Homo sapiens: one gene and its partners. The protein of the gene in region 1 purifies or fractionates together with the protein of each later gene. This does not show direct contact. Each region holds a gene or a part of one and is shown in the gene's direction. Other genes may lie near its edges.

Region 1 (6,332 bases):
TTTGGGAGGAGAGGTGAGGTCTCCTTCAAACAGGGCAATTTGCCTTCCTTTTTGGAACCCGAGATGGACTTTTTATTTCCTTGCAGAACTGAAGGCATCTGGCTTGGGAGCACGATTATTCTCCACTCACCTTTAAACTGCCTCAGCTATTACTAAGTCTCTGGCAGTGATATGTTGATTATGTGAATTTAAAGCCCACAGGAGCCAGAGGAATGACAGATCAGTTTCTCTTAAATGAGAAATAAAATCCAGGAGCCTGGCAGCGGGACATACGGCTCTCACTCCTGCTGACCTTTGATGTCACTCGGGTAGAATGACTGCTTCTAGGCCAGATGGCATGTAGCTTAAACGGAGATGTCTCAACCTGTTTCCTTGTATTAATTGTGCACATTGATACTCCTCCATTGTGTAGTCCATAATTCTTCATCGTCAACCTCATTTGGATTTTTTTTTGAGGGGAAGCTGAGCTCAAGCAGGCCTCCACGAATTCAAGCTATTTCAAAAGCTCCAAACCCAAACCTTTTTCTATCCAATCACTGTTATAGGCTGACAGACACTGAATCTCCCTTCTGTCAATTGAATGTAAGTCTAGCAACTTTTAAGAGCAATGAGATTGAAGGAAAGGGCCTTCTTTCACCTCTTTGCCCTAAAGGAGGTGGCTGAATGGAAGCCCATTTAATTTTTTGTTTAAAGGTACTAAATAAGGATCAATTTGTAAAGACGGCTCTCTGAGTGTAGCAAGATAGTTTCTTAAATCTGATAGGGATAAATGGGAGGTCAATATCCTTTTTCTTATCAACAATTTCACCAAATAATATTTACTAAGAACTTTCACATCGGGTTTCTCAGCTATAAACAAGCAAACACTCCAAGCAGAGATATTGGAAGTGCTGAACCAGGACAGTTGCTGGGTATGGAGCTAGAAGCTAACATCGCTTGTCTATGGAAAAGCATGCTTTCATTACTCAAAAGCTGAACTTTTAATTTATTTCTAAATCAATTTGAAGCAGACCCAATGAGCGAGAAATGCAAATGTAGTCAACTGGGAAAAGAAGCTGACTTTTTTCACTCAGGGTCATGGGTAAGGATAGAATTCTGCCACGTGAAAAATGTCTCAGTTTTGACAAAAAAAAATTAACACTGCTTCAAGGAAAGAGAAAATAAGTTATGGACGTTATATCTGACAGATTTTTCCCTTTGTATTCATGGCATTTGAATTATATGCACATCACTAAAAAAATATTGAACCCTCATAAAGAGCCTGGCAAGTGAGTAACTGTAATTTTAAAACAGGAACATTCGCATATGTTTTAAAGCTGTTTTAGTTTTTGCTCAGAATTCTGGTTCACTATTTATAATAGGGCAGAACATCCATGCTTTTGTAAGAACCACTTTGGCTTATAGAAAATACAGTACCGGCCAGGCATGCTAGCTCACGTCTGTAATCCCAGCACTTTGGGAGGCCGAGGCTGGCAGATCGCCTGAGGTCGGGAGTTCGAGACCAGCCTGACCAACCAACAAGGAGAAACTCTGTCTCTACTAAAAATACAAAATTAGCCGGGAGTGGTGGCACATGCCCGTAATCCCAGCTAATCGGGAGGCTGAGGCAGAAGAATCGCTTGAACCCGGGAAGTGGAGGTTGCGGTGAGCTGAGATCGCGCCATTGCACTCCAGCCTGGGCAACAAGAGCAAAACTTCATCTCCAAAAAAAAAAAAAAAAAATACAGTACCGCTTTAAAAGTTTCTAAGCCAACAGAAATTCAAATGATCTAAAACTTAAATCAACATATAATGGTTTGAGAGAAAAACATGCATTGGCCTTAGTGTTTAGGTAGGTTAGGTATGTTTGGAGACTCCATGAGAGGAGCCCATAAGGAATTTGTTTGCACGAGGGATGAAGTTGCTTCCTGTGAATGAACGAACCCTAAGACAGAGTAGCATTGATGGGATATTGAGAAGGTCAAGAACTAGGGGACAGTATCAGAGGCAAGGGGCACTGTTCATTTAAATTTAAACTAGCCACCATGAGCTTATAACCCGAGTCCTTGGTAGAGGAGCAATAACTAAGAGCAAGCGAAGGAATGATTTCAGAATAATCTCTTTAAGACACTGGGGAGAATAAACCTGAAATGTTTTGTAGGCCATGTAATAGAGTGAAATGAAAGGGAGCACAGAAGTCCATTTACCTTCTTGGACTCAGTGGCCCCTTCAGTGAGTATTGTGTCTTTGCTGGGGCAATTGTGACTTTGCATATTGATGGACACTGGTGCCTTTGGTGGTTATTGGGGCATTGTTGCGTTTTCACCATTAGTGAAGTCAAGAGTCAACAACTTGGCCAGGCGCGGTGGCTCACGCCTGTAATCTCACCACTTTGGAAGGCCGAGGTGGGTGGATCACCTGAAGTCAGGAGTTTGAGACCAGCCCGGCCAACGTGGTGAAACCCCGTCTCTACTAAAAATACAAAAATTAGCCAGGTGTGGTGGCACATGCCTATAGTCCCATCTACTTGGAAGGAAAAAAAAAAAAAAAAAAAAAAAAAAAAGAGTCAACAACCCAACAAGCCAGAGCCAGGGAAAAGGAAAATGATCACTGCTATGTGGTAACTGAGTACTGAAACCAACATAATTCTCTGTCGCTGTGTAAAACAATAACAGACGTGGGAATAGTTTTCTGTTCCCATATTAATCCATGTTGAGAATAAGCAAACTTAGCTACTTGCTCCAGGAAATACTTTTTCCTGAAAATTAAAATTGTAAACCAACTAAAAGAGTTTACTTAACAAGAATACCACCTTCCCCATCAAAACTTGCTTCAATATTCTCCTCCTGCTATGCCCACCAATCTACAGCTATTACGTCACAAAATCTACCCAATCCCAATTAGAGGCCTGCCTTGCAAGACCCGCCCTGAAACCACCCAACTTAGTCCCTAATAACCTATCCTGTCATTTCCCCTCTGAGACACTGCCTAGACACCATTAAGGCAGAGTTCTCTCATACTGCAGTAAGTCTCATAAGATACTTCACTTTGATGGATCAGTGATGTTTTTCTAGTATTTTAGGGGAGGGCACGGAGTAGGGGTTGACAGCCAACGAAGCTAAAAGGGTGAATGTCTGCACATTCAGGAGAATAGAGGTGCCACAATTATGGGTGGAGTGGAGGCAGAAAAATATGGTGTGTTGCTGTTTTTACGATCCAGTTTGTACTTAGAGGCAAGGTAAGATGTGAGGAAATGTGGGCTAAATACCCATAACCCTTTTTAAAATTAAGCAAGAACAGCAAATGTCTAAAAAATGTCTAGCCCAGTGAAGTTACCATCTATTCACTCCTGTTTTTTTTTTTTTTTTTTTTTTTTTTTTTTTTTTTTTTTTGAGACAGAGTCTCACTCTGTCGCCCAGGCTGGAGTGCAGTGACGCGATCTCAGCTCACTGCAACCTCTGCCTCCCACGCTCAAGCGATTCTCCTGCCTCCTGAGTAGCTGAGATTACAGGCGCGTGCCACCATGCCTAGCTAATTCTTGTATTTTTAGTGGAGATGGGTTTTCACCATGTTGGCCAGGCTGGTCTGGAACTCCTGGCCTCAAACGATCTGCCTGCCTCGGCCTTCCAAAGTGCTGGGATTACAGGAGTGAGCCAAGGCGCCTGACACTATTCACTGCCTTTTACATGATTTTTCCTTGACGAGATAAATGTAATGCTCCCTTCTTCCAGACAAAGGTGATTTTAAACTTACTGTATCGTGAAATCACAAAATCTTAAAAGGTATGTGTATTTTGTGTGTATGTATATATACATGCACACACACAGACATATCATCCTATCTTATTCCAATGAGTGATTTAAGGTAGTTCACAAAAATGCAATAGGATAAAAATAAGTCAGTCCTAGAAGGCAAAGCTCTGCAGGGCCTGCTGGGAATTTATTCCCCACGCCCATCAGTTTCTGTTTCCATGAAGACCCCTTTCTCTTTGAGTACTGAAGAGCAGCATCAGCAACCTCAACACTGAAGCTTTTTCTTTCTCTGCCCAAATTCCCTCACTAGAGTGGTGGGACAGGGTAGGTGAGGAGAGAAGGAAGCCCTTAAACGTCAAAGCAGTGGAGGGTTGGGGAGGCATCGGATCGCACTTTCGCCTCCTAGGCTGGGGAAGATGGTGCACATGCGTTGTAATGCGCACGTGTTACTGGCACATGACTCCCGGTCCCTTGTGAGCCGAAACTTGGATCCTAATGACGTTGATAATGGGTTACTAGGCACTCATAGTTCTGGATCGTTGGGTGGCCTTCACGTTAGCAGAAGAATTCCTTTAAACGTCATTTTTGAGGAAGTAGACAAACCTAAATATGTGTCTGAACTCCAAGGAATATGAACAAGATGCCTGCTGGTGAACAAGAATGTGAATATAACAAAGAAGGGAAGTACTACTCTAAAGGAGTTAAACTGGTGAGAAAAAAGAAAAAAATTCCTGGTTACCGTTGGGGGGACATTAAGATAAACATCATAGGTGAAAAGGATGATTTACCAATTCATTTCTGTGACAAATGTGATTTGCCTATTAAAATCTATGGGCGAATAATTCCGTGCAAGCATGCTTTTTGCTATCACTGTGCTAATTTATATGACAAAGTCGGATATAAAGTATGTCCGCGCTGTCGTTATCCTGTGCTGAGAATTGAGGCGCATAAACGAGGTTCTGTCTTCATGTGTAGTATTGTTCAGCAGTGCAAGAGAACATACTTGTCTCAGAAAAGCTTACAGGCTCATATCAAACGCCGCCATAAGAGAGCTCGAAAACAAGTTACCAGCGCTTCGCTTGAAAAAGTTCGTCCTCATATTGCTCCGCCACAAACTGAAATCTCTGACATCCCTAAAAGACTGCAAGACAGGGACCATCTAAGCTATATTCCACCAGAACAGCACACCATGGTGTCACTACCGTCTGTGCAACATATGCTACAAGAGCAACATAATCAGCCACATAAGGATATCCAGGCTCCTCCCCCAGAACTATCTCTAAGTCTGCCTTTTCCCATCCAGTGGGAAACCGTTAGTATTTTTACGAGAAAACATGGCAATTTAACAGTTGATCATATTCAGAATAACTCAGATTCTGGTGCTAAGAAGCCAACACCTCCCGACTATTATCCTGAGTGTCAAAGTCAACCAGCGGTATCGTCCCCTCATCATATTATACCTCAGAAACAGCATTATGCGCCACCTCCATCTCCATCATCACCAGTAAACCATCAAATGCCATATCCTCCTCAGGATGTAGTTACTCCTAACTCGGTTCGTAGCCAAGTGCCAGCTCTAACCACGACCTACGATCCATCATCTGGATATATTATTGTAAAGGTGCCACCTGATATGAATTCTCCTCCACTACGTGCTCCCCAGTCTCAAAATGGTAATCCATCTGCAAGTGAATTTGCTTCTCACCATTATAACCTTAACATTTTACCTCAGTTCACCGAAAATCAAGAAACCTTGAGCCCTCAGTTTACACAAACAGATGCAATGGATCATAGAAGGTGGCCTGCATGGAAACGACTGTCACCTTGTCCACCAACGCGGAGTCCACCTCCTTCAACCCTACATGGTCGATCACATCATTCACACCAGAGAAGACATAGACGGTATTAAGGATGATAACAGTATTTGGAACTGAAGACCTGATGGGAAAAAAACCTTCAAGTTCTATACTGTACTGTGGATAAGCGGCTCAGTTCAGCAGAGCTGGAGTTGAACAACTTTGTTCCTCTGGTGTGGTAAATTGACCTAAAGGTGACCTCTGACGATTTCCTGAAATAAATATGCAATGTTACATTTTCAAAAGTATTGTGGTTTTTATTTTTTTATTTTTTGGTGATATGTTAACCTGTGTAAAAGGGTTAAATTTCAATACAGCTGTAAAAATGCTATTTTATGTGAACTCAAGCATAGTCACATGCTGTTTCTTAAACATATTTTACCACTGATTTCCCAAAGTACAATACAAATCCTAGAGGTAAAAATCTACTACAATGTACAGTTAAAGCAGACAGCTAAATGGTAGATAATTATTTCACATTTTAGGAACTGAAATTTTAAGGTACAATAAGTGTATAGTGCATTTCGTTTGGATGCCTTTTCATTTTTAGGCAGCCGCAGAAGCACCAAAATATATCAGAATTCCAGTACTATGATAGATTTAAGTTTGCAATGTTAAAAAGCATTACTAAATCATTTGGAAAGATATGGCCAAAGTAATTGTATCTGTAGGCTCCAAGCTAGTGGGGACAATGTTACTTGTTAATGCTTTTTTTTTTTTTTTTACAGAATCGTTCAAATCACAT
Region 2 (9,184 bases), on another chromosome or scaffold:
CAGCACTTTGACTTGGACATTTTATTTTTTTGCTTCTATTCCGCTGTTTTTTCTTGGTAGATGAATGTCTTGGGCATAGGACTAATTTAGTTATACAGATTTTTCTTTTTAAATAATTTGGTTCCACTTTTCTCCCTTGAAATAGAACTGTCTGTTGAGGGGCTGTGCTTTTTTGTAGAGTGGTAGGAGAGGGTCAAAGGAGAACAGTTTCAACATCTGCCCCGTGCAGCACACGCGGGGCAGTCAGCAGCAAGGCGCTCAGCTCCTGCCCGTGGAGGCTTCGGTTGAAGGAATGCAGGAATGCCCTGCCTGTCAGACTCAGTGCGGCGGACAGGGGCAGGCGAGGCACTCAGCTCCTGCCCGTGGAGGCTTCGGTGGAAGGAATGCCCTGCACGTCAGACTCAGTGCAGCGACGCGGGGCAGGCGAGGCGCTCAGCTTCTGCCCGTGGAGGCTTCGGTGGAAGGAATGCCCTGCACATTGGACTCTGCAGCAGTGCGGGTGTGGGTAGCTTCTTGGGATGTCTTCTCCTGATACTTGATCAGATTGGAAATATCAAGGAACATCTGTTTAGACTTGAAAGTTCGTTTAGTTCCATTCCTTTAGCATATGTACTAAAGTGTTAAACACCTAAGATATTAGATATTGGTTATAGAGCAAGAATGAAAGTACTGGCGTCCTTGATTTTGAATTATGAAATATTTAATACTTAATAGAAAATTTCACTTAGGGCATACAGAAGATTCAGAGGTTAATATAGATGTACCTGCAAACCCACCACCCAGAGGTTATCCCTTCATCAAAGGAAGGAGAATGCTCGGGATACAGATGAAGCTCCTGTTGTCCCCTCCCCATTTCAGCCTGCTACTTTCCTCCTGGTCTTTTTCACTCTCCCTCTAGCTTCCCAGAGTTGCTCATGATTTTGAAGATGGCATATGTCTTCCCAAGCATGTTTCTCCACTTCTGTAACAGACTTGTTCTGTACGTACGTAAGCAGCACCTCACTCTGGGCACCTGTGCAGCCTGCTTCACTTGTGCAGCACTGTGCGGTTGTCTGTGCTGGCTCATTTATCTCAGCGGCTTCGTGGTGGTCCCTGCATGGCCCTGTGGCTTACTGTTGCCCTTCGCCTCTGGTTGGCATATGTGTGGCGTCTGGTTCACTACCACTGTGTTGGAGCTGCCACATCGCTGTGTCACGCTCCTCAGGCCCGTGCTGGCTCTCCTCTAGAGCAGACTCAGCAGACACTTTCTCTCCAGGGCCAGATTGCAAACATTTTTGCCTCTATAGCTCATGCGGCCTTTTCACAACCACTCACCTCTACCCAGATGGTGCAGAAGCAGCCAGAGACAGTATGTGCACACATGGGCCTGACTGTGTTCCACTAACACTTGCCTTAAATACGGCAGGCTGCATTCAGCAGACCTGCTCCAGAAAACACGGCAGGCTGCATTCGGCAGACCTGCTCCAGAAAACACGGCAGGCTGCATTCGGCAGACCTGCTCCAGAAAACACGGCAGGCTGCATTCGGCAGACCTGCTCCAGAAAACACGGCAGGCTGCATTCGGCAGACCTGCTCCAGAAAACACGGCAGGCTGCATTCGGCAGACCTGCTCCAGAAAACACGGCAGGCTGCATTCGGCAGACCTGCTCCAGAAAACACGGCAGGCTGCATTCGGCAGACCTGCTCCAGAAAACACGGCAGGCTGCATTCGGCAGACCTGCTCCAGAAAACACGGCAGGCTGCATTCGGCAGACCTGCTCCAGAAAACACGGCAGGCTGCATTCGGCAGACCTGCTCCAGAAAACACGGCAGGCTGCATTCGGCAGACCTGCTCCAGAAAACACGGCAGGCTGCATTCGGCAGACCTGCTCCAGAAAATACGGCAGGCTGTATTTGGCAGACCTGCTCCAGAGAACACGGCAGGCTGCGTTTGGCAGACCTGCTTCAGAAAATACGGCAGGCTGCATTCAGCAGACCTGCTCCAGAAAACACAGCAGGCTACATTCGACAGGCTGAATTCGGCAGACCTGCTCCAGAAAATACGGCAGGCTGCATTCGGCAGGCCTGCTTCAGAAAATACGGCAGGCTGCATTTGACAGACCTGCTCCAGAAAATACAGCAAGGCTGCATTCGGCAGACCTGCTCCAGATGCATACCTAGAAGTGGAGTCGAAGAGTCGGAAATCAAGTTCGTTCTTTTTTTTTTTTTTTTCCCTGAGTTTCATCTGAGATTTTTTTGAGCCAGGATTTTTTAGCTTTAAAAAATATGTATGGTCATTTGATATTCAAATTTATAGTACTGAAATTTTCTCTACACTGTGCTTTGTTCATTAAAACAGCTCTCATGTTTCCTTGCAGAATAAAAGCCGCCCTCATTCTAGGGGAGAATATAATGTTTACAGCACCTTTCAAAGTCATGAACCGGAGTTTGACTATTTGAAAAGTCTAGAAATTGAGGAAAAAATTAATAAAATTAGGTGGTTACCACAACAGAATGCTGCTCATTTTCTACTGTCTACAAATGGTAAGAATTGTGTTCTAAGTGGCTGTTTGATTTAGTTTTTTATTTTTAATTTTCTGTGTGTGTGTAGATTCCTTTTTATTTTAGAAGTTATTCCTGCTTTAAATTTTGGGGGGAGGGTAAGTTATCTAGGGTAGCAAGTGATAGGTTGAAAATTCAAAGTATGCAACAAAAACCACACGTGCACTTTATTATGCTGTTACTCTGCACGTCTGCACATCTTTCTTTATTGTACAAAACACCTCCAATTGGAAATATTCATGTTCAGAGACCCCATAGCTTATAACCCAATATAGGACCACACCGCTTTCTAATACCAGTACTCAAACAGTAGTGATGCATGTTATAGTTTTTCTTTTCATATGGAGAATGAGGTTTTTATTTTCAGATAAAACTATAAAATTATGGAAAATAAGTGAACGGGATAAAAGAGCAGAAGGTTATAACCTGAAAGACGAAGATGGAAGACTTCGAGACCCATTTAGGATCACGGCGCTACGGGTACACGTTGCCTTTGCTTTATCCAATGCTGTTGAGAAGTTAAGAATAAACGTTTCAGTCTGCTGTCTGGAGAGTGCTGCGCGGTGGAGTACTGTGAGGTCTGCTGTGAGGTCTGCCTCGTGATTCCTGAAAGTCGTTTGCACTCATGTGTGTGTTTAAAAGCAAGGTCTTTCTCCTGTTTTCACAAAGGCAGAAAGTCACATGTGGTCCTTAGGAAACACAGCAATACTAAGGGGAAAACTCATATTTAATTCTACAGCAGAAATCTTTGTGGACATAGCAACCACCCTTCTCTCAGAAGGTTCAGAACAGCACCTGGGAGGTTGGAGTTCAGATGAAATTCAGAACACCTCACAGGTGCAGTAGCACAGGTTGCAGGTCGAAAGATGAGCTGTGGGCCACAGGTACATTCAGGACGCTTCTCGGGGAATTTCTTTGGGGTTGGTTTAGGCAGATGCTGATGGTTCAGAACTCTCCACCTGTCCATCCATGAGCATCATTACTTTTTTAATTGTTAAATTATTTGCTCCATTGTTGGTAGTATGAAATGATCATATTTCATCAATTCTGATGCCTAAATTTTTTCATATTTTAACATTTATGAAACCGGCTAAAACTCAAAACCTCAATGTCTTATAATTGGCCTGGTGCTACGCACCACTGATGTTGTCTTAAATTAGATGGAACATGGTGAAGGGTGTCCGGCAAACTGGGCTCGAGCCCAGGTGTGTCTTGGTGAGAAACCAGCACCTGTGCAGAGGTGTGTCCCCTGGAAGGAAACTCTGCCTGGTCCCAAGGGGGTGCCGTTACTAGATTGGAAAACCGTTGGTTGTTTGGGTGGTTGGGTGGTTTGGTTGCGGGGGGTGGGTGGTTGAGTTGGGTGGTTTGGTTGGTTTTTAATGAGATTTCAGCCCCTTTTACACTATTGTTTATCAAGTGAAGACTGAGTGAGTGAGCCCATTCCACATTAGTCTTGGAGAGTGCTACAGAGGACGCTGTACCGCAGAAGCCTTTCCCTAACACATGTGCCTCTGGGAGTGATGTTGGGTCTGTTCTGATGCCATTTCTCCAGCTTTGCCGTGTGGGGTGGCTACACCTGGGGTTGTGCATTCCTCAGGAGGAGTGTCCTCAGACTTCTCACATCGATGTTGTCACCGTATTTCCTATGAGTTCATCAAAGCGAGAAAGGCTGTGGCATTTGCTGAAAATCTAGTTTATAGGGTCCTAATTTGAACCAAGATGTTTTGATCCAAAATGTTGGTGATGTCTGATACACAGTGCTGCCGCCTTTGCACCCCTGAATTAGTGTAAATCACTTTTAGTGACAGTAACACGAGTTGTGCAGTTCCATCATCATGAAACTGCTGATCCTAAAGTAGAAGTGTGATGGGACCCCCGAGGGTGGGCACTTGACCCCCTCCAGCCTTGTCCATCTCTTCTGCAGCCAACACCACCTCCCACCCAGTTACCTGTGCACACCCCACCCTCAGAAACCCCTGTTCCTCCTGATCAGACCCTGCCACAACCCATCAGCTCACGTGCTCATTTTGGGAGAACAGTAGGCCTTTACTAGGCCCAGTCTTGGTTTTATTCAAGGCTGCTTTTGTAGGTTTAGCCTAAATAAAACGGGTATAATTGGTGGCCCTACTGAAGGTGTGTGAGAAGTCTAGTTATTTCATTAGTTGGTGCATGGGGAAGAGACCACAGACAGGTAATTCTGTACATTGACTTAGGTCGGTATTTGAGATCTTACCTCTCTAACAGTTCAGAGTGGGCTATTTATGTATCTGAGCCTAACTGGGTAAGAGTCAGACATGTTGCTGTTTTTAAATTTTTGCTCTTAAATTATTTTAGTGCCAGAAAAGGGATATAATTAAAAGAAGAAATCTTGGCCAGGTATGGTGGCTCATACCTGTAATCCCAGCACTTTGGGAGACCGAGATGGGAGGATCACTTGAGCCCAGGAGTTCAAAGACCAGCCTGGGCAACATAGCCAGACCCCATCTCTAAAAATGAAAGCAAATTATTTTATATGCAAATTAAAATGTTTTCAATAAAAGAAGGAATCTTTGTAAGTATTGCAGCTATCATATGTTTTGATTAATGGGAAATTTGTTAGAGGATTGGGGTAGGTGTGTGTTTTTAAGCCTGAACTTGGTAGAACTGACTCTTCTTGCTCTAGAGAATCCAAGGGTGTGGTCAGCACTACCTGGGTTAAAATGAGGGAAGCCTCCCTACACACACTTTTCCAAGTTGGTTTTTTACAGAATTCAGCCAGACAAGACTCAGTTGAGAGCTTTTCTTTTTCCCCTAAGCTTTCAAGGCTCTCCCTTTTGGTTTCTAATTACAAGAATAACAAAAAATACTATCATTAATTTTTTGTTTTGATTTTAAAGCTTATGTTTTTCTTCCAGCTGGATGTTAGTGAGACACAGGCCTTTTTCCTTTTTTCATGTGTGATGCTATTCCTCACGCCTGAGCTCTCACCTCTGACCATAGGCGGCCTGCAGCCAGCGCCCACTCCTCTCTGTCCTTTCTATTTCTGTGCGAATTGGGCTTCCCTAGGAAGCCTCCCTGACCACAGCACTCAACACAGAGATGGGGGCGGGAGGTACCTTCTACTTTTTGTTTTAACCTCAAGTGAAGTGTAATATATAATACATACCTCCAGATAAGACATCTGCCCTATAAGTGACCAGCTCCATGAATGTTTGTAGGGTGCACATGCCCATGTAGCCAGCCCCAGACCAAGAAATGGAATATCCTCAGCTCCCCAGCACCCTGCTGTGCACCCTGCCAGTACCTGGAGCCAGTGGAGGTTTGTGGGGTTTGCACCGAGAAGCATAGTCCTAGTGCAGTGAGAAGAGGTGTGTGCATCTAGCTGCAAGGAGAGGACAAAGGGAGGGGTGCAGCTGAGCCACCCAGGAGGACTTTGCTGTCCAGCGCCTCAGTGTGGCCACTGGAGGACACACAGGAGAGGGAGCCGCAGGCCTCGGTGCCTGGGCAGTTTGTTACCCTGCCAGCTGATCTTCTCTTCAGCAGGAACATGTCGACCTCGGTAATGGAAGCAAGGGGAAGACTTGGAATAGACAGTATTCCATTTTGTAGCATATTTTCATAACTCTGCTAATTGGTTATTTGGGGGTATTGCCTGTACAGAATTATTACTTAGCCATGAATATAAACTTGTCCTCTTTCGTTATCTACTATAAGTGTTCTAATTATGTGCTGCTGTGATCTTTGTTTTGAATTCCTATTTCCTTCCATTTTTAGGTCCCAATATTGAAGCCCATGGATCTTATGGTAGAAGCGAGTCCACGGCGAATTTTTGCAAATGCTCACACATATCATATAAATTCCATTTCAGTAAATAGTGATCATGAAACATATCTTTCTGCAGATGACCTGAGAATTAATTTATGGCACTTAGAAATCACAGATAGAAGCTTTAGTATCCTTCCTCAGAGGGACACTGGCGTCTTCCCGAGGGTGCTCTTTAGATAGTAATTTCTCTCGTCCCTTTATACACCTGTATCTCGGAGTCTAGTCTTGTAAATACCATCACTGCACAGCAGCCTGTGATGTAAGTTCTCTGTGATTTGAAATGTTTGTCCCTAAAAATACAAATTTCTTTCTACCTTTGGGAAAAAGTTATCTGTATAATGGGAATTACCTGAAGTCCACTGCCTGCCTGGTTTAATCAGAGGCAGTTTTAAATAGGCTACATTTGAAAAACCAACATTATGTGTTCTTTTTTTTTTTCTAAATTTGCTAATGAATAATAGAAAATACTGGCTTAGGTTAGAGCAGTGTTTAATCACCCATCTGAGCAGCAGCTTCCAGTTAGAACCTGTGTTCTTCTGTGGCTGTGCACAGTCTGGGTGGCCCCAGCCCTCCTCACATGGGCCCCTTTCCAGCCAGCAGCCGGGAGCATGGGGCTTGCTTCGTCTGCAGCCTCTCCAGGGTCCCTGCCGTCCTCCCTCTGCTGTCCAGTGGCTTGAGCTGGGGTTCCATGTCGTATGTTGGTTTTCTTAGTTGTTTCAGCTTGAAGGGTGAAACTGGGACTGCTAGTCTGAATTGGCCCACAGCTGAATTCTGCCCTTTCTTATTTTTTTCAGTTGAAGGATTTCTGTATAGGATTTCTGTTGGATCTGTTCTAGCTACACAGAATAAGCTCTTCATGTCAGGAAGAGCAGCATCTTTTGGAATTTGGCGGCATTCTTGTGTTGTAGTTTTGTGTGGGAGTGTGGGATTTTGCACAGATGGTACTAGCTTGGTTTTCCTATTTATATGATTAAGTATGTACTATCTTGCTATTAAGGGCTTTCTGTATAACATTAATAATAGCAGCAAGATGAAAGCGGTGTTCGCTTGTCTGTGTCTCCCCCTGGGCCGGGGCGTTGCTGTAGTCTGAGTGTGCTCATCCCAATCCCCTTACCAGGCGCTCCTTTGGAATTCGGGATGTGTAACCAGCCTTCTTAATAGCTAATCCCTTAAACCTCACTGCGTGGATTATTTGGCGTCCTATTTCGCGTGACTGAATGTAGACTAATTAACAACCAGCTGAGCTGAGCACTGTGCCTTAACCATGCACTCCCAGACATCGTGGACATCAAGCCTGCTAACATGGAGGAGCTGACCGAAGTCATCACTGCAGCCGAGTTCCACCCGCACCAGTGCAACGTGTTCGTCTACAGCAGTAGCAAAGGGACCATCCGCCTGTGTGACATGCGCTCCTCGGCCCTGTGCGACAGACACTCCAAGTGTAAGTGCGTCTGTTGTTGAGATGGAGTCTGGCTCTGTCACCCAGGCTGCGGTGCAGTGACACAGTCTCGGCTCACGGCAAGCTCCGCCTCCCGGGTTCCAGCAAGTCTTCTGCCTCGGCCTCCCGAGTAGCTGGGACCACAGGCAGGTGCCACCATGCCCAGCTAGTTTTTGTATTTTTAGTACAGACAGGGTTTCACCATGTTGACCAGACTGGTCTGACCTCAGGTGATCCCCCTACCTCGGCCTCCCAAAGTGCTGGGATTACAGGTGTGAGTCACCGCACCTGGTCACGCCTGGCGTCTTTTAAAGCATCTCATTTAGAGCCACTTGTTCTTCAGACACTCCAAAGACTTAGAGAGTTCTTCCTGTTCCCCAAGTGCCTTTGCACAACTGGGGAGCCCTCCTTTGCTGGGGCCGTCCGAGTGTGGCTGTGTCAGAGGCTGCTGCTAATAAGTGGAACTCGAGGTCATGCTTCCCACAGGCTTATGGCTGTAGGGTGAGTGTGCTTTTGGCACCACCGAGAAGCGGGGTCACTTCTGCCCAGAGCCTGGGTGTCTCCTCAGAGGCTGCCAGCACTGAGTCCCGCCAAGAGCCACCCGTTGCCTCTGCCTCTGTGCGTGAGACCTGGGCTGAGGCCGCCAGCACACAGGAGGCCATTCCCAGCTGTTGGAATGAGCTCCTGTTCATGTTGAGCTTGGCTGGATTGGAAGCCACTTCCCTTAGCTGAAAGTCTAGCATTTTAATCCAGTGAGCTTTCAAGCTCCTTTTAGGTGAGGGAGGTTCTGGTTTTGTTTTTATTTTTAGCCATAAAGAATGGGCTTGACTTTATAGAGCACTGTAGTCAGCGTGTCCCAGTGTCCTGAAACATTGCTGACCCTTCCTCCAGTGCCAGCAGGTAGACACACGTCCAGTGACTTCCTCTGATGGGGAAGCCGCCAGTCAATCCCACCAGACTGAGCCGCTGCTCATGTGCAGCGGCGCCCCCAGTGCCTCGGTGGAATGTGCCCATGGACCGTGTGCAGCAGCCTTTTCGCCTGTTCTCTTTCCTGAGGTTGAGTGTGTTTTTAAGAATTCGTATTTCTACTAGAATTCCTGCGATGAGGATGAGTGTTTCGTAGCATTTGGCCTGTATCTTAAGCATAAAATTCTTGAGTAAATAATTTCAGATTCCAGTTCTATTTGTCATCAGAGTGATTTATTTGAGTAAATGCTTGGCGTCGGCACAGCTGGCTTCAAGTTAATTTCAGATGCTAAGCCGACAAACACAGGCTCCTGCATCAAGAAAAAAGAGAAAAAACCTAAAGCAGCTTCAGGTCAAGGAAGCACAAGCCAGGTGCAGTGGTGCTCACCTGTGGTCCCAGCTACCCTGGAGGTTGAGGCGGGAGGATCTTTCTGA
Region 3 (9,184 bases), on another chromosome or scaffold:
CTGGGATGCTAGGCACCTAACCAGTCTAGACTGAACTCCATACTAAGCTGTTTTTCTGTGTTAAGGCATCAAGAGTAGATGGTGGTCCTGATTTTCTGAGATATATTATCTCTGAATTATCTACATAAATAACTGAAACTTTTATGTAATTTTAAAACTAGTCAATCATGTTACCACCCTTTTGAGGGGCACCAAATTTGAGACCCTTACCCCCAATTTATTAATTAATAGCTGTTTTAATCACCTAATAGCTGATCACCTAATGACTAACAGTCATTTTCATCCTGGAAAATGGGAACTAACTTTGACTTTGAAAAGTGCTGTTATTAAATGTGTGATTCATAAGAACTGAACATATTTTCTTTATTATTTTCCTTCAGGATTCAACTTTAATTGACTCCAAATGATGTTATGGTCATTCTGTTTTTCTGATACGAGAATAGATTGTTCTGAGAACCTAGAATATTCATTGCCTTTATGAATCTAGAATTGACTTTAAATTTAGGTTATTGTGTTTGTCATTTGCGCTAAAAAAAAAATTGCCCTGGGGAATACCAAACTTCTCGGTACATTCGTGTGGTGTGAAAGTCAAAATTGCCAATTAGGTTCTATTTTGACCAAATAGTTGAATGTTGTAGACAGTTGTAAATTTTGAACCTGTTCTAATTTGCCTTTTGCCAGATGGCGCATTTAACTTTGTGGCATATCATCGACTTTCAAGGAAAGATTTACTTTTCATCAGATTAAAGTTGAGGAAGGATTTTCTTTCTAAATACTGAGGCTCTGAATTTCCCAAGTTGGATACCCCAGACAGCTAGAGTGATCTTAAAAGTGACTCTGAGAGTTGACTTAGGAAGTGTAGACATTTATCCAAAATCTGTATTTACTCCTGACTTACATTACAAATACAGAGTTTTATTTTTAAAGAAAATTTCAATAAAAAGCACCATTTAATTAAAATCTACTCACCATCAAACTTTTTAAAAAGAACATAAGCCAATGTCAGGAGTTGGAGACCAGCCTGGCCAACATAGTGAAACGCTGTCTCTACTAGAAAAAAAAAAGAAATACAAAAATTAGCTGGGCATGGTGGTGCGTGCCTGTAGTTCCAGCTCCTTGGGAGGCTGAGGCAGTAGAATCGCTTGAACCCGGGAGGCGGAGGTTGCAGTGAGCCCAGATCATGCCCGTGCACTCCAGCCTGGGCAACAGAGAGAGACTACGTCTCAAAAAAAAGAAAAAAAGAAAAGAAATTTCAATAATTGCAGGCTGGGCATGGTGGCTCACAACTGTAGTCCCAGCACTTTTGGAGGCCCAAGCAGGAGGATTCCTGAGCCCAGGAGTTCAAGACCAGCCTGGGCAACATAGCAAGACCTCATCTCTACTACCAAGAAAAAAAAAACAAATTAGCTGGGCGTGGTGGTTCATGCCTGTGATCCCAGCTACAAAGGAGGCTGAGGCAAGAGGATCAGTTGAGCCCAAGAGATGGAGGCTGCAGTGAGCTGTGATCGAGTCACTGCACTCCAGCCTGGGCGACAGAGTGAGACTCTGTCTCAAAAAAAGAGAGGAAAAAAAGAAAATTTAAGTAACTTCTGTTTAGAATCCTAAATATTGGAGATGCCAAAGAATTCTGCAGTAAGTGTTAGAAACAGTCGGGAGGACAGTATGATTATTATCCTCAACCTGTGGATTATCTCTTCAGGTTTTTCAAGAAACACTGAGTCTGTGTTTTTGATGGGGAGAAGAAACTATTAATTAAATGCCCATTTTGTGCCAGTTACCATGCTAAAGATTAATGTCTGTCTTCAGAAATAGCACAGTATTTGGGCCCTGGTTGTGGTAATTCTTTTTGAGATGGGGAAACTGAGGTGCAGAGATTTTGCTACTTTTGTATTTGCAAAGTTGACAACCTGTTTCAGAATACCAAGGTTATCAGAACTTTCTTCATGTGTTTCTCAGTCCTTTTAATGCCCTTTAAAAACAGATTATCATCTCATTTTTTGCTAAGCTTACTGTTAATTTTATTTTAGTGGAATAAGAATATGGATACCTGTCTTTAAGAAGAGAGTAAGCAAGTAAACCTAGGGAAAGTATCAGGTTGTAGAACCACATACCGATGATCCTTGCCAAAATCCTGGCATAGGAATTTGAACCCTGGTGTATGAAAAGTCTGCCCTTTGCATACTCAGGTTTCGCATCCCGTGAATGCTGTATTTTTGATCCGAGTACTGTATTTTTTAATCTGAGTTTGATTGAAAAAAATCCAAATATAAATGGACCCATGCAGCTAAAACCTGGGTTGGTCAAGGACCAACTATAATAACTTTTATAAGCTGGAATTTATATTGAACAGCATCCATGATACTTTAGTATTACAACTAAAGTTGTACATACTGAGTAGGTAGGATGCCTTAGTAACTAGATAAAAGGTATACCACCTAGCCATAGTGATAAATATAGCTGTTTTCAAACTGTCATTCACAGATCTCTACCACAGTACCTGTTACGTGAAGTTCCTGGTTGGTTCTCAAAATTTTATGTTCGTATATACATAGATACAGATACTGATATACCGGTTAAATATGTACAGCTCAAATAGCTAAAATTGTCTTTAAGATTTTTTAAATTAAAAATATTATTGGCCGGGCGCAGTAGCTTACACCTGTAATCCCAACACTTTGGGAGGCCAAAGCAGGTGGATTACCTGAGGTGAGGAGTTCGAGACCAGCCTGGTCAACATGGTGAAACTAAAAATACAAAAATTAGCCGGGCGTGGTGGCAGGCACCTGTAATCTCAGCTACTCTGGAGGCTGAGGCAGGAGAATCGCTTGAATCCAGGCGGTGGAGGTTGCAGTGAGCCGAGATCGCGCCATTGCACTCCAGCCTGGGCAACAGAGACCGGGCGCAGGGGGAGGGGGAGTGTCTCTGTCTGCTTCTTTCTCTCTCTCTCTCTCTCTCTCTGTATATATATATAGTGTGTGTGTGTGTGTGTGTGTGTGTGTGTGTAAAATTGATATTTAGCTCCAGACAAATGGGAAATTACAAGGAAATGCCAGATTTGATATCTGGGTTCTAAGACTTTGCAGCCTAATGCATGTGTCATGCTAAAATAGAAGTAGTTAGACATGTGGAGTTAAATATGGTGATGGTTTCTGAGATGATTAAAATGACTGCCACCAGGTTAAGGTAGTTACAAAGCAGCTTTCTGTAATGGCAGCAGAGATAATAAACTGGGCAACAAGGGAGGAACCAATTTAAAGAAAAAAAGAATAATATACATTTTATATCATAGTAATATGGTTTATGTCTTCATAGGACAGAGTGACTTGCTCAGTGAAACAGACTGTATACAATTAGCTCAGAAACAAATACTGAGGTTTTTATCTGTTTGCTGTATCCCTTGAGAAAGATTAAAGAGGGAAGGCAGGGTGCAGTGGCTCACGCCTGTAATGCCAGCACTTTGGGAGGCCAAGGCAGTTGGATTGCTTGCGCCCAGGAGTTCGAGACCAGCCTGGGCAGCATGGCGAAACCCTGTCTCTACCAAAAAAAATTACAAAAAATTAACTGGGTGTGGTGGCACATGCCTGTAGTCCCAGGTACTCGGGAGGCTGAGGTGGGAGGATCACTTGAGCCTGGGAGGTCAAGATTGCAGTGAGCCATCATCGCACCACTGCACTGTGGTCTAGGTGACAGAGCGAGACTGTCTCAAAAAAAAAAAAAAGCCCAGCACGCTGGCTCATGCCTGTAGTCCCAGCACTTGGGAGGCTGAGGTGGGCAGATCACCTGAGGTCGGGATTTCCAGACCACCCTGACCAACATGGAGAAACCCCGTCTCTACTAAAAATACAAGGAAGTTAGCCGGGCGTGGTGGCGCATGCCTGTAATCCCAGCTACTTGGGAGGCTGAGGCAGGAGAATTGCTTGAACCCAGGAGGCGGAGGTTGCGGTGAGCCGAGATCGCGCCGTTGCACTCCACCCCGGGCAACAAGAGCGAAACTCCATCTCCAAAAAAAAAGATTAAACAGAGAAAGAAGCAAGCCAGTAATCTAAGATCAATTTATGATTTTTCCTCTAAATTCTGCTTTCTTCAACACAATTTACTTAATCTGAAAACCAGGGTTTAATAACAGTATGATTAGAATGTTTCATTTATAAAGTGGAGTTGAGATTGTACGTAGTATAAAACATGCTGTTGGAAGATTATCTCCTTTTGAGGAATCTCAAAATCAAGTGGGAGAAATCAAGTAGTCTTGGTGTGTGTGTGTTTTGTTTGTTTGTTTTAATGAGAGACAGGGTCTTACCACATTGCCCGGGCTCGGTTCAAACTCCTAGGCTCAAGCAGCTCTCCTGCCTCAGCCTCCCAAAGTGCTGGGATTACAAGTGTGAGCCACCACACCAGCCTCAAGTAGCTTTCGAGATGATGCCACAGCACTCCAGCCTGGCAACAGAGTGAGACTCCATCTCAAAAAAAAAAAAAAAAATTCAGTTTAACATACCAAGCTTTTGGTCAAATTTCTAGTAGTTTAGAATTTATAATAAGTATGGGTAATTAAAATAAACCATAAACACTTTAAAGTAAGGGAAGATTCATGAGTATACTATTAGAAATAATAACTAGGGCTGGGCGTGATCCTTCCACAGGTAGTTCTAGCTACTTGGGAGGCTGAGATGAGAGTATGACTTGAGCCCAAGAGTTCAAGACTAGCCTGGGCACTATGGTGGGTCCCCATCTCTTAAGAAAGAAAGAATAGGAAAAACTAAATTAGTATAAGAACTAATTACTTAATTTGTATAAGTTATGAATATGCCAAATGCAATTTAGATGCTTTTTCAAAAGAGCACTGGTACTCAGAACCCTGATTCAATTTTTTAATCCTCATAGAATTTTTATATAAAGATTTTATGTTTGTCAGGTTAGCTCTTCATGTCGTATACTTTTTTTTCCAACCTTGTATTTTAATGTGGTGTTTATGTTTATTACACATTTTTTCTTTGTCTTTTTTTTGTGTGTGGATTTGTAGTTTAATGAATAATACCTGCTATTAGCATTCGTTCTAAAAAACAGCATAATAAAGTGTTCCCTACTTGAATTCATTAACCTATCTTTGAAACAGGGTTAAGTGAATTTTGTATAATAAAGAAGCTAATTTTGAGATACAAAATATTTGGCATAAAATTAAATACTGTAGGAATATTTTTATTAAGGTGTGACATACATGTGTATGTGAGTTTTTGTTGTTTGTTTGTTTGAGATGGAGTCTCTGTTGCCCAGGCTGGAATGCAGTGGCGCGCCATCTCGGCTCACTGCAACCTCCGCCTCCCAGGTTCAGGCGATTCCTGCCTCAGTCTCCCTAGTAGCTGGGATTACAGGCGTGTGCCACTACGCCGGGCTAATTTTTTTAATTTTTTGGTAGAGACCGAGTTTCACCATGTTGGCCAGACTTGTCTTGAACTTCTGACCTCAAGTGATCCACCCACCAGCCTCCCAAAATGCTGAGATTACAGTCGTGAGCCATCACGCCCAACCAGTGTAACATATATTTTAAAATATGTAATAGGATGGGCGTGGTGGTTCATTCCTGTAATCCCAGCACTTTGGGAGGCCAAGGCGGACGGGTTGCAATGTCAGGAGTTCGAGACCAGCCTGACCAACACGGTGAAACCCCGTCTCTACTAAAAATACAAAAATGAGCCAGGTGTGGTGGCACGCACCTGTAGTCCCAGCTATTTAGGGGGCTGAGGCAGGAGAATTGCTTGAACCCTGGAGGCGGAGGTTGCAGTGACCTGAGATCGCGCCACTGCACTCCATCCTGGGCGACAGAGTGAGACTGTGTCTCAAAAAAAATAAAAATAAAATATATAATATATCTAAAAAACTATTGGGCAGTAGTAAATTATGGCTGTGGTAGGTACTACCTTACTTTAACAACATAATGCTATAAAAGGAAAGACTTAAACTGGTATTACCCTTTTATAGTCCCTTAGCAACATGCGTAGGATACTACTTGAGGTCATTATATTTCTCTTCACCCTTTATGGCGACATCAAATGATTTGAATGGCTGATCAGCTTTTTTACGAGGGAATTTGTAAAAACTACCCAATAACTCTAATGATGGAAGATGTTAACAAAGGAAGATCTGGGTACAGAGTATATAGGAACTCTGTAATATCTTTGCCACTTTTTTGTAAATCTAAAACTATTTTAAAATTGTTTATTTAAATTCTAATTATTCAACAGTAATTTAGTTCACTAATAAATTGATTTGAAAGAGTCAGTATTTTTTATTCCTACTTTCACTGGAAGAAAATAAATTGAACTTGTTTTCCGCAACTTTTTTTTTTAGGATTCAAGATGACCAACGAAGAACCTCTTCCCAAGAAGGTATGGGTTTTGGTTTTGGGTTTTTTTGTTTTGTTTTGGGTTTTTTGGGGGCTTTTTTAAGCACTTTAAAAAAAAATAGACTTGAAGGGATTATCGTTGTTTGCTTATTTTTCATTTCTTTGCCTTTATAACAATAATAGCATTGGAGTTGTACAGTGTGCCAGATATTGTATCTTATATCCAGTATATTTTTTAGAATATTTTCAGATTTTGGAAAACTTTAGTTATAATAATATTCCCATGGTCTACTCTTAATGTTCATTATGTGAATATTTCCAGGTCTACTCTTAATGTTCATTATGTAAATATTTCCAGGTACATATATACAAATAATGTCAAAAATGGACATTATGAGTATATTATTATTCTTTTCCTAGTGTAAATCCCTTTGATTGTAATTAAAAACTACTTTATTAAAAAAATGGTTATAGCTAATTTTCAAATTCTACCTTTTTCTCTGAAGTTTTGTTGTCTAGTCTCAAATCTCCCCCTGTTGTGCATTCCTACCTTGAGTTTAATTACTCTTACATACACACACATACACACACACAGTGGCTGTTATAAAAGAGGTAACATCGTCTCTAGGAGGAATTTGTGATTCAATTGGGAAAGCTTACTAAACTTAATATTTAAGTGAATAATTTAGATATTACAGAAGTTTCCTATTGTGGAGTCAGATTACTCATTAAATGAATAAAGGATTGTATTATGCTTTCATAATCTGAGAATTACTGTGTGCTCCCTCTGGTACCCTTTGATTTTCCTCCCTTGGAACAGGGTCTTGCTCTCTTGCCCAGGTTGGAGTGCAGTGGTGCAATCTTGGCTTACTGCAGTCTCCGCCTCCTGGGCTCAAGCGATCATCCCACCTCGGCCTCCTGAGTATCTGGGGGCTACAAGTACGTGCCACCACGCCCAGCTAATTTTTGTATTTCTTGTAGAGATGGGGTTTTACCATGTTGCCCAGGCTGGTCTCGAACTCCCGGGCTCAAGAGATAGCCACCTGCCTCTGCCTTCCAAAGTGCTGGGATAATAGGCATGAGCTGCCTCTGGCAGCCTTTCAATATGTTACATTATAATAGTTCCCTCGTTCCATTTTATGGTAATACTATTTTACTGGTTAGTATTATAATTTGAAACATTTTTAAGGAAAAAAATTTAAGTGTCTTGTAAGGGAATACTAATAAAGCCTTTATTTTATTTTTATTTTTTATTTTCTGAGACAGAGTCTCACTCTGTTGCCCATGCTGGAGTGCAGTGGTACAATCTTGGCTCATTGTGGCCTCATACCCCAGCTTATGCGATCCTCCCACCTTTGCCCCCCAAAGTAGCTCAGACTACAGGTGTGCCACTACGCCTGGCTAATTTTTGTATTTTTTGGTAGAGATGGGGTTTTGCCATGTTACCCAGGCTGATCTTGAACTCCCGAGTTCAAGATATACTCCCGCCTCAGTCTCCCAAAGTGCAGGAGGCATGAGCCACAATGCCCAGCCAAAGCCTTAATTTTATACTGAGGTAGGAGAGGTATCTCACCTTTACAGCCTTTATTTGGTGTAGTGAATATACTGTTTCTCAATTTTTGAAGCATGTTAGCTTATGCCCTTCTTTCAGCTTTTTGTTTTGAAATAATTATAGATTCATAGGAAGTTGCAAATAAATGTACAGAGAGGTTCTGTGCAACTTTCACTGAGCCTGCTTCATTGTTAACACCTTGCGTGACTAGCAGACATCTCTAATAACTGTGAAAATCAGGGAATTGACATTGGTACAATCCACAGAGCTTATTCACATTTCACGTTATACTAGCACTGTTATTGGGGGAAGTGGGGAAGAGCTATATGCACTATTATCATGTCTAGCTTTGTGTAACCATCATTAATCAAGATACATATCTGAACTATCACCATAAAGCTTCATCGAGTTATTCTTTTATAGCCACATCTACCCCGTCCCTCTCCATGCCTGACCCCTGGCAACCACTAATTTATCTCCATTTGTATAATTGTTACTTCAGAGTGTTATATAAATGTAATCATGTAGTATGCATCTTTTTGAGACTATTTTTTTTCCTTCCACTTAGCACAGTTTCCTTAAGGCTTATACAAATTGTTTCATGTATCAGTAGTCCTGTTTCTTTTTATTGCTTAAAGTGTTCCATGGTGTGGCTGTATGATAGTTCAATCATTTGCCTGTTAAAGGACATTTGGATAGTTTTCAGTTTTTTAGCTTTTACAAGTAAAGCTGCTTGCATGTTTTCATTTCTTTGAGATACATGTTTAAGAGTGCAACTGCTGAGTTATATGGCACATTCATTTTTAGTTGTATTAATAAAAGGAACTGCCATACTTCTTCAGATACCATTTTTATATTCTCACCTGCAGTGTAGGAAACTTCAGTTTCTCTGAATCCTCACCAGCGTTTGGTGTTGCCACTAATTTTTATTTTAGCCATTCTAATCAGTGTGTGGTGATACCTGGGGTTTTAATGTGCATTTTCCTAATGATGATGCCCATTGTTAAGATACCAAATAGTTTACCTTAAAAAAAAAAAACTTTTGTAATAAAATACTTTTTCAAAAAATCATAATATGTACTGAGCCGTTTAAATCTCACACTTGGGAGATGTTTCATAGGTCTCATTATAGAACTTTGTGTCTTCAGGAAGAACACTAAATTCATATTGTAATTCTCTTTATAGGTTCGATTGAGTGAAACAGACTTCAAAGTTATGGCAAGAGATGAGTTAATTCTAAGGTAAAATGTTCTCTGTTCAAAAACAAAGTCTTTCTATAGAACATTATATTGTGA
Region 4 (6,144 bases), on another chromosome or scaffold:
ACAGGGAGCTAGATGAAATGGCTTAATGGTGCTGTTAAGTATTTGTACCTAACAGTCTTGTGTGACAGATGAAAATAGGATGTAACATAATGAAACACACCTGTCTAGGGGCGGCAATCAACAGTCTTACACAGAGAGGGTATTCCCTGCAAGTTTCTGGCTTGCCTGTGATGGGTGATGAGGCTTTTAGAGAGGTGTTATACAGGGCGATTTTTGGTGCCTTACTTTTATCTTAATTTTTGCCAATGTGAAAATTAAGGATAAATCAGAGTTACAGCAGGGATTTAACAAACAGGACAAAAAAAAAAAAAAAAAAAAAACCACAGGGTGGATCAATATGGTTTGGAAACTGTTAACTTTGAACTATTGTGTTCAGCTTTTGATTCGACATCTCTATTCTTTATTTTTGATGCCCAATTGCTTTTGGATTCGCCGTTTTTTCAATAGGGATGGAGGAAATGAGAGAGAGAGCTGTTAGAAAGCAGCACGGGCTGCTCGAGCTTTTCTATGGCAACTGTGTGTTGCTGGGGTTGGGGTTTTCTGGGTTTTGGGTTGTTTTGTTTTGTTTTCTTGTCCAATGAAGTTCACGAACCAGTGGCATGCATTATACTTTTCTCTGTTTTGCATCATTTCACTTGTTTAGATTATAAAAGCATGTGGGTTTTTATATATGAACTTTGCTGTTGATTAAGAAGCACAATGTTAATAAATGATGTGGTGATCAATAAGGTTTATCTTAAAGAATGTAAAGACTTTAGGTTTTTGAAAGTTATTTTGGAGAAATGGGACTTAATCTATAATAGTTACTATGTATTTGGTCTACATTTTCCAAATAATATCTTTAACTTGTACATTTGAAAAGTGTTCAGAGTGGCCCTCCTACCATCCTTCCTTCCACTCCAGCCAACTCTTCCTGCTAAACTGTATTCCAGTTTCCAAGTTTACTAATTGACTTGGGCCTGTTCAAATAATACTTCACAGAAACCAAATGCCAAACGGAGGAAATAAGTAAGCCCTCCCAGTTTCTCCAAGATAAAGCTTTTTTTATTATTGCTATTAATATTAAATATAGGTCTCATTCATACAGTGTATGAGTAGGATCATTTGGACAATTGTCCACAAAGACCAATTTTTAAAACATTTTCTTGTGTTATAGTTAAATAGTCTAGTAATGTTTTGTCCTTTATTTTCAATATTTGATAAACATTTGATGTTCAAAACTTAGCTAATAGATGCTTGTATATGAATGTGTTGTAATAAAGTGAGGTTTTCTTGATATATATTTATTAAGATGATAAAAATTCATTAAGTTTTTTAAATTTTAATGGCTATTGGCTATGTTTCTCTTTTCCATTATTCTCTCTCCTTTAAAAAACTCAAAACATCTAGAAACTGTAGTGGATAGTGGCCACACAGGAGTTTTCTAAATTAAAGAGTATTTTAAAATGCCAATCTGACAGGTGTTTCAGAATGATCCTAGTTCGTAAGTTTAAGTTTCTATTGATTAAGAAGCACAATGTTAATAGATGATGTGGTGATCAATAAGGTTATGTCTGAAAGAATGTAAAGATTTTCCTTTCTGGAGTGTCTCTGAAAAAAATTGTATAACACGAAGCCATAAATACTGAATCTTAGCTGATTGCATTATGAACTGTCAAACTGTGAAGATGACCCATATGTAAACAGTTATAACAGCTACAGATTATTGCTAGTAGCATTCCATACAATTCCATATTAATGTTCTTAGGAGCTAATATTTGATAAAGGGGAAAGCTAGTTAAAAACTAATTAATTTGTCAAATGTAGCATTCTTATTATGAGTGTAATATCTCATGGAGATTTAAATATGAACGAAAGGACTTATCCTTCTGCTTTTTAAAAGCCCCAGCATTACTAGATAGTGTTTTTCTTGAAGGCCAAAGCTGTAAAATGACAAAGTTGGTGATTTTCAGCAGCACTCACCTGAGCTGTGAGCGCCTGCACCTGTTCGGTAGAACCCACTAGAATCACTTCTCTGTAGGATAAGTGATGCCTTTGAATCCAGCAGCATAAAAATCTGTTCTTTTTAGTCATCAAGTTTTTGTTTCCAGGATATTTCTAGCATTGCAAAAAAAAATTTCTTCACCAAACACTAATTCCTAAACACCCATCCAAACCACAAAAATTCTCTTGTTAGTAGGCGAGAGTGCTAGGACTTCCTGTGTTCACCTCCCATGCACCCAGCATTGTCTTTTATGCATGAGATATTCCATTAGATTTTCCTAGAGTGGCCAGGACACCCTTCATAGTAAGTTATATCTCTTAACTGGATTCTATAGTTTTATCTCGAGCAACTTGGAAAAGCTAAGACATCCTCCACCCACACTGGTATCTACGCGCCTGGAAGCTGCACCTTCTCTCATTGCTGTGCTCTGCTTTAAGGAAAACCTGATATGACAGAATCAAGACTATTAAAAGATAAATGAGGGGAAATCTTCATTTAAGAAAGTTGCCTTGCTCCCCAAGAGTGCCTTTAATTGCTATTCCCCTAGGCATCTGGGTGCATATCATTAATGAAATCATTAACCTTTGTCTCTGGTCCTTCCTTTCTAAAAACAGCAGATTATAGAAGGTGGTCTGGCAAAGGGATTTTCAAAGGGCAAAAGTCTCATCATCATCTTTCCACTCAAAATCCTATTATTCTACATTTCACTTTGCAGGGGTCCTAGGGACAGGATTGCAGGGACAGGGGACATGGGAGGAAGACAGAAAAATTCAAAACCAGCAGATGCCACTACCTGGCAATGAATTGAAAATTAGGGGAAAGCATCTTTGGCGTGACCTTTTATTAAGACAACAGAAATTTAGAACATTTTACATGCTTCTTTGTTAAATGGTGAAGCAAGGGAATGAAAGTATTTATTTTTAGAGCTCATAGTTAACTCCATCAAGACATGGCTACCCACCCCTCCAGTTATGAACTTGTATTACAGCTCCACTTGGTGACTTCCTTTCTGTGTATCAGGAGCAGAGCAGAGGACAACTTGTAGAAGACATGACCATTAAGAGACATCAACTTCGCAACAAATATAAGACAAGGATACAAGGATTCCTATGTGATGCAGCTAGGTTTTTATATCCTTCTAACAAATGGTGAGCAGGAGACTTTTTTGGAAATAATTAGTTGTGAAATTCCATTTTTCTGACAGCCCCTTAAATTTGAAGTTATTTCATTTGTAGTTAAGGTTATCACATCCCTGCCAATTTTACTAGATTTTTTCAGAGACAAGCATTCAGCATGGCATTAGTAATGATGGTTTAAACTAGGTGCAGAACTGTCCCATGAAGAGAAGAATGATATCAGTATTTAAATAATAAAAGAAGAGACAATGTATGGTTTATAGTGATTCATTTTAAGATTGCTGTATTTTGATTTTGTGGTTTAAAATAAATGCATTAAGGATCTTTTAAGTTACTACAAGATGCCTCTCTGTTGCTTTCTTAGCTATAGTGCCTAAGCAAGGTATATTATCTTGACATGGCTAAAATGTCTCAATTCTATGTGATATAGCTACACGACCTGGGGTGAAAGAGTTACTAGTTTGGAGATTATTTCCCAGCCTTGGGTACCTGCCATATTTGAGCTGGGAGAACTCACTTAGGAAAAGCACTTGCAAAGATGTAAGTTATGAACACTTGAATCTCGCATCCTGCCATAAAGTGCATCAGCAAGTGACTTTAATAAAACATGCTGTTTAAAATAGTCTGTAATTTCCTGTTTCTGCATTTCCCTTCAGTATCTGTGACAGGCTGAAGAACGATGACTAAACGAAGGGAATTTACACAAGCTAGTCTGGTGGTGTTTGCAAACCATCGCCATGAGCTTCATCTTCTTTGGTAAACAATCCGCTGGTGGGCTGTCTATGGTTGGTTTCTTTTCTTTGTTGTTGATCCAATTTGTTAACTTTGAAAATGCAAACTACTTATTCACAGTGTGGAAACACCTGCTTTTGACCACAATGAAACTGATAGAATGTATGGCGATGTATTAGTTGTTTCTCATGAAATTTCTTATATTTCTCAACCCCATTTCTATGACTCTTCTCTTGATTTAAAAATATGAAAATCGAATAAAATCTTGTGGGGAGGACCTACATATAAAAGAACTTGCAGAGATGTAAGTTATGATCTTGCTTTGTGCCAAGATCTCCAAGACAATAGGCAAATATCAGAACTTTGGGGGAAAGGGATCTAACGTACCCTAGTCTTGTGCTGTGCAGACCAGCCTGGCCTTCGGCAGGCATTACCTCTATCCAGATCTTTCCATGGAAGCAGCTGAGTCCAGGCATCAGGCATATGATTCTCCACTGCCTCCTCTGGTCAGCACACACATGAACCCATCTTTGATACTTCTAGACGCAGTGCTTTTTCTTCAGATACCCTCTAAAGTGACTGCAATGAACTAAGCTCTCAGATGTGGTAAGACCCTGGTATCCTCTCAGCCAAGAGATGAGTAGATGTCTCTGAAATACACTTGGCACAGCACTCAGATATCTATACCATCTTCAAAACTCACAACATCCCTGTGTGCACAATAAGCAAAAGATAGAGAATGACAGGCTATGCAAGGGATTTGCGCAAAAGGTTGGGGAGTTGATCTCTGGTCCAGTACACTGAAGGAAATCTGAGAAATACAGTGCTCCCTGTACACTGCAGAGTGAATCCACTCTCTTTAAGGAAAAGTCTAAAGACTGCAAGGGAAAGAAGACAGAATTTTTTGTTTCTTTGTCAAACCTCTTTAGGAAAACAGAAAAAAACATTTCAGGGACTAAAGGATTGTTTTAAATGTTTTTGCAGGAAGAGAGAAATGGCTTGTCTGCCCTTTCTGGAGCTGGGAGGGGTTCTCCTTGTTCTCCATGTCCTTAGATGCTGTGCTTTTCAATAAACCCACCAAACTGTATTTGTGAACAGTTATGGTCATTAGCCCAAGGAATCTCTCTCCTGTTCAGTTTAGGCACAGAGGTTGTGGGTTTCTCACAAGACTGGAGTATAGAAGAGGGTTAAGAGTAGGGGGTTTGGAGTTAGACTGCCTGGATGAAAATCTCAGCTCTGCCAGGGTAGCTGTGCAAGCTTGGCCTTGGCCAACAAGCCACTTTACCTCCTAGTGCCTCAGTTTACTCATCTGTAAAATGGAGCAGCACACATTATCCACCTCATCAGGTTGTCAGGATTAAAGGTTTTAATATCAGGGAAGTGACTCAACATTGCCTGGGTGTACATTATGGGTTTGCAGTGAACAAGCCTCCATGACTTCTCCATTACTGTCCTTGAATGCCCGGCAAGTGGAACCCAACCGTGCCAGATCCTCCTTTTGGTGGAAAGTATTCAGCCTCTTTGGTTCTGTACAGCAAGCTTGAAGTTAAACAGGGGGATGGTATGAAACCTGGGGTCCCAGGGCCCTTAGCTATGAAAGTCGTCATTGGTGACCTTGAGATATGTTTAGTATTTAAAATACCAAATCATAAAATCTTCTGAAAGTGGTTGCACAGGCTAACCCCACATCAGATTTCCTTACCTTTGGCTGGAATTAAATCAGCTCCAGGCTGTCACAAACTGAGAAGAAACTCTGACTGGGAAAACGAAGGCATTATCCTTAATAAATACAATTTGTTTGTCAGACAGAATCTTTCAGAACATTGGCTATGTGAAGGGAATAAGAGGTGTCCCTTACAAATGGAAAGATTAAAAACCACTAACCTCTGACTCATCTCTAGGATTTGCCAAAGTTCAAGTTTATTTAGTTGTTGTATCAAATAATTTTCTTAAACCTAGCTTTTACTCAGAAAAAGTACAGTATTAAGTTAGGAAAAAAAGGGGGGGCAGGCGCGGCAGCTCATGCCTGCTGGTAATCCCAGCACTTTGGGAGGCCAAGGCGGATGGATCACTTGAGGTTAAGAGTTCAAGACCAGCCTGGTCAACATGGTGAAACCCCGTGTCTACTAAAAATACAAAAGTTAGCCGGGCCTGTGTGGTGGGGGGCGCCTTTAATCCCAGCTACTCGGGAGGCCAAGGTAGGAGAATTGCTTGAACCTCAGAGGCAGAGGTTGCAGTGAGCCTAGATGGATCCACTGCATACAGCCTGGATGAGGAAGTGAGACTCTGTCT

The links.
Region 2: the proteins of CBLL2 (region 1) and PPP2R2D purify together in Homo sapiens (affinity purification with mass spectrometry; 3 studies listed by BioGRID and IntAct, with this or other methods). This does not show direct contact.
Region 3: the proteins of CBLL2 (region 1) and WTAP purify together in Homo sapiens (affinity purification with mass spectrometry; 3 studies listed by BioGRID and IntAct, with this or other methods). This does not show direct contact.
Region 4: the proteins of CBLL2 (region 1) and SERTAD4 purify together in Homo sapiens (affinity purification with mass spectrometry; 3 studies listed by BioGRID and IntAct, with this or other methods). This does not show direct contact.

What each region holds. Positions count from the first base shown.
Region 1 is NC_000023.11:22,268,630-22,274,961, forward strand, and holds CBLL2 (E3 ubiquitin-protein ligase CBLL2), read left to right. Parts: upstream 1-4,283; 5' UTR 4,284-4,362; coding exon 4,363-5,640; 3' UTR 5,641-5,832; downstream 5,833-6,332. UniProt on the Homo sapiens protein: E3 ubiquitin ligase catalyzing the covalent attachment of ubiquitin moieties onto substrate proteins. May operate on tyrosine-phosphorylated SRC substrates.
Region 2 is NC_000010.11:131,937,674-131,946,857, forward strand, and holds part of PPP2R2D (serine/threonine-protein phosphatase 2A 55 kDa regulatory subunit B delta isoform), read left to right. Parts: exon of another isoform or gene 1-300; coding exon of another isoform or gene 301-501; intron 502-523; exon of another isoform or gene 524-979; intron 980-2,357; coding exon 2,358-2,523; intron 2,524-2,908; coding exon 2,909-3,021; intron 3,022-3,094; exon of another isoform or gene 3,095-3,119; intron 3,120-6,294; coding exon 6,295-6,472; intron 6,473-7,621; coding exon 7,622-7,786; intron 7,787-9,184. UniProt on the Homo sapiens protein: Substrate-recognition subunit of protein phosphatase 2A (PP2A) that plays a key role in cell cycle by controlling mitosis entry and exit. Involved in chromosome clustering during late mitosis by mediating dephosphorylation of MKI67.
Region 3 is NC_000006.12:159,729,916-159,739,099, forward strand, and holds part of WTAP (pre-mRNA-splicing regulator WTAP), read left to right. Parts: intron 1-969; exon of another isoform or gene 970-1,050; intron 1,051-2,481; exon of another isoform or gene 2,482-2,516; intron 2,517-6,342; coding exon of another isoform or gene 6,343-6,350; coding exon 6,351-6,380; intron 6,381-9,074; coding exon 9,075-9,130; intron 9,131-9,184. UniProt on the Homo sapiens protein: Associated component of the WMM complex, a complex that mediates N6-methyladenosine (m6A) methylation of RNAs, a modification that plays a role in the efficiency of mRNA splicing and RNA processing.
Region 4 is NC_000001.11:210,242,796-210,248,939, forward strand, and holds the end of SERTAD4 (SERTA domain-containing protein 4), read left to right. Parts: 3' UTR 1-3,004; coding exon of another isoform or gene 3,005-3,132; 3' UTR 3,133-3,460; downstream 3,461-6,144.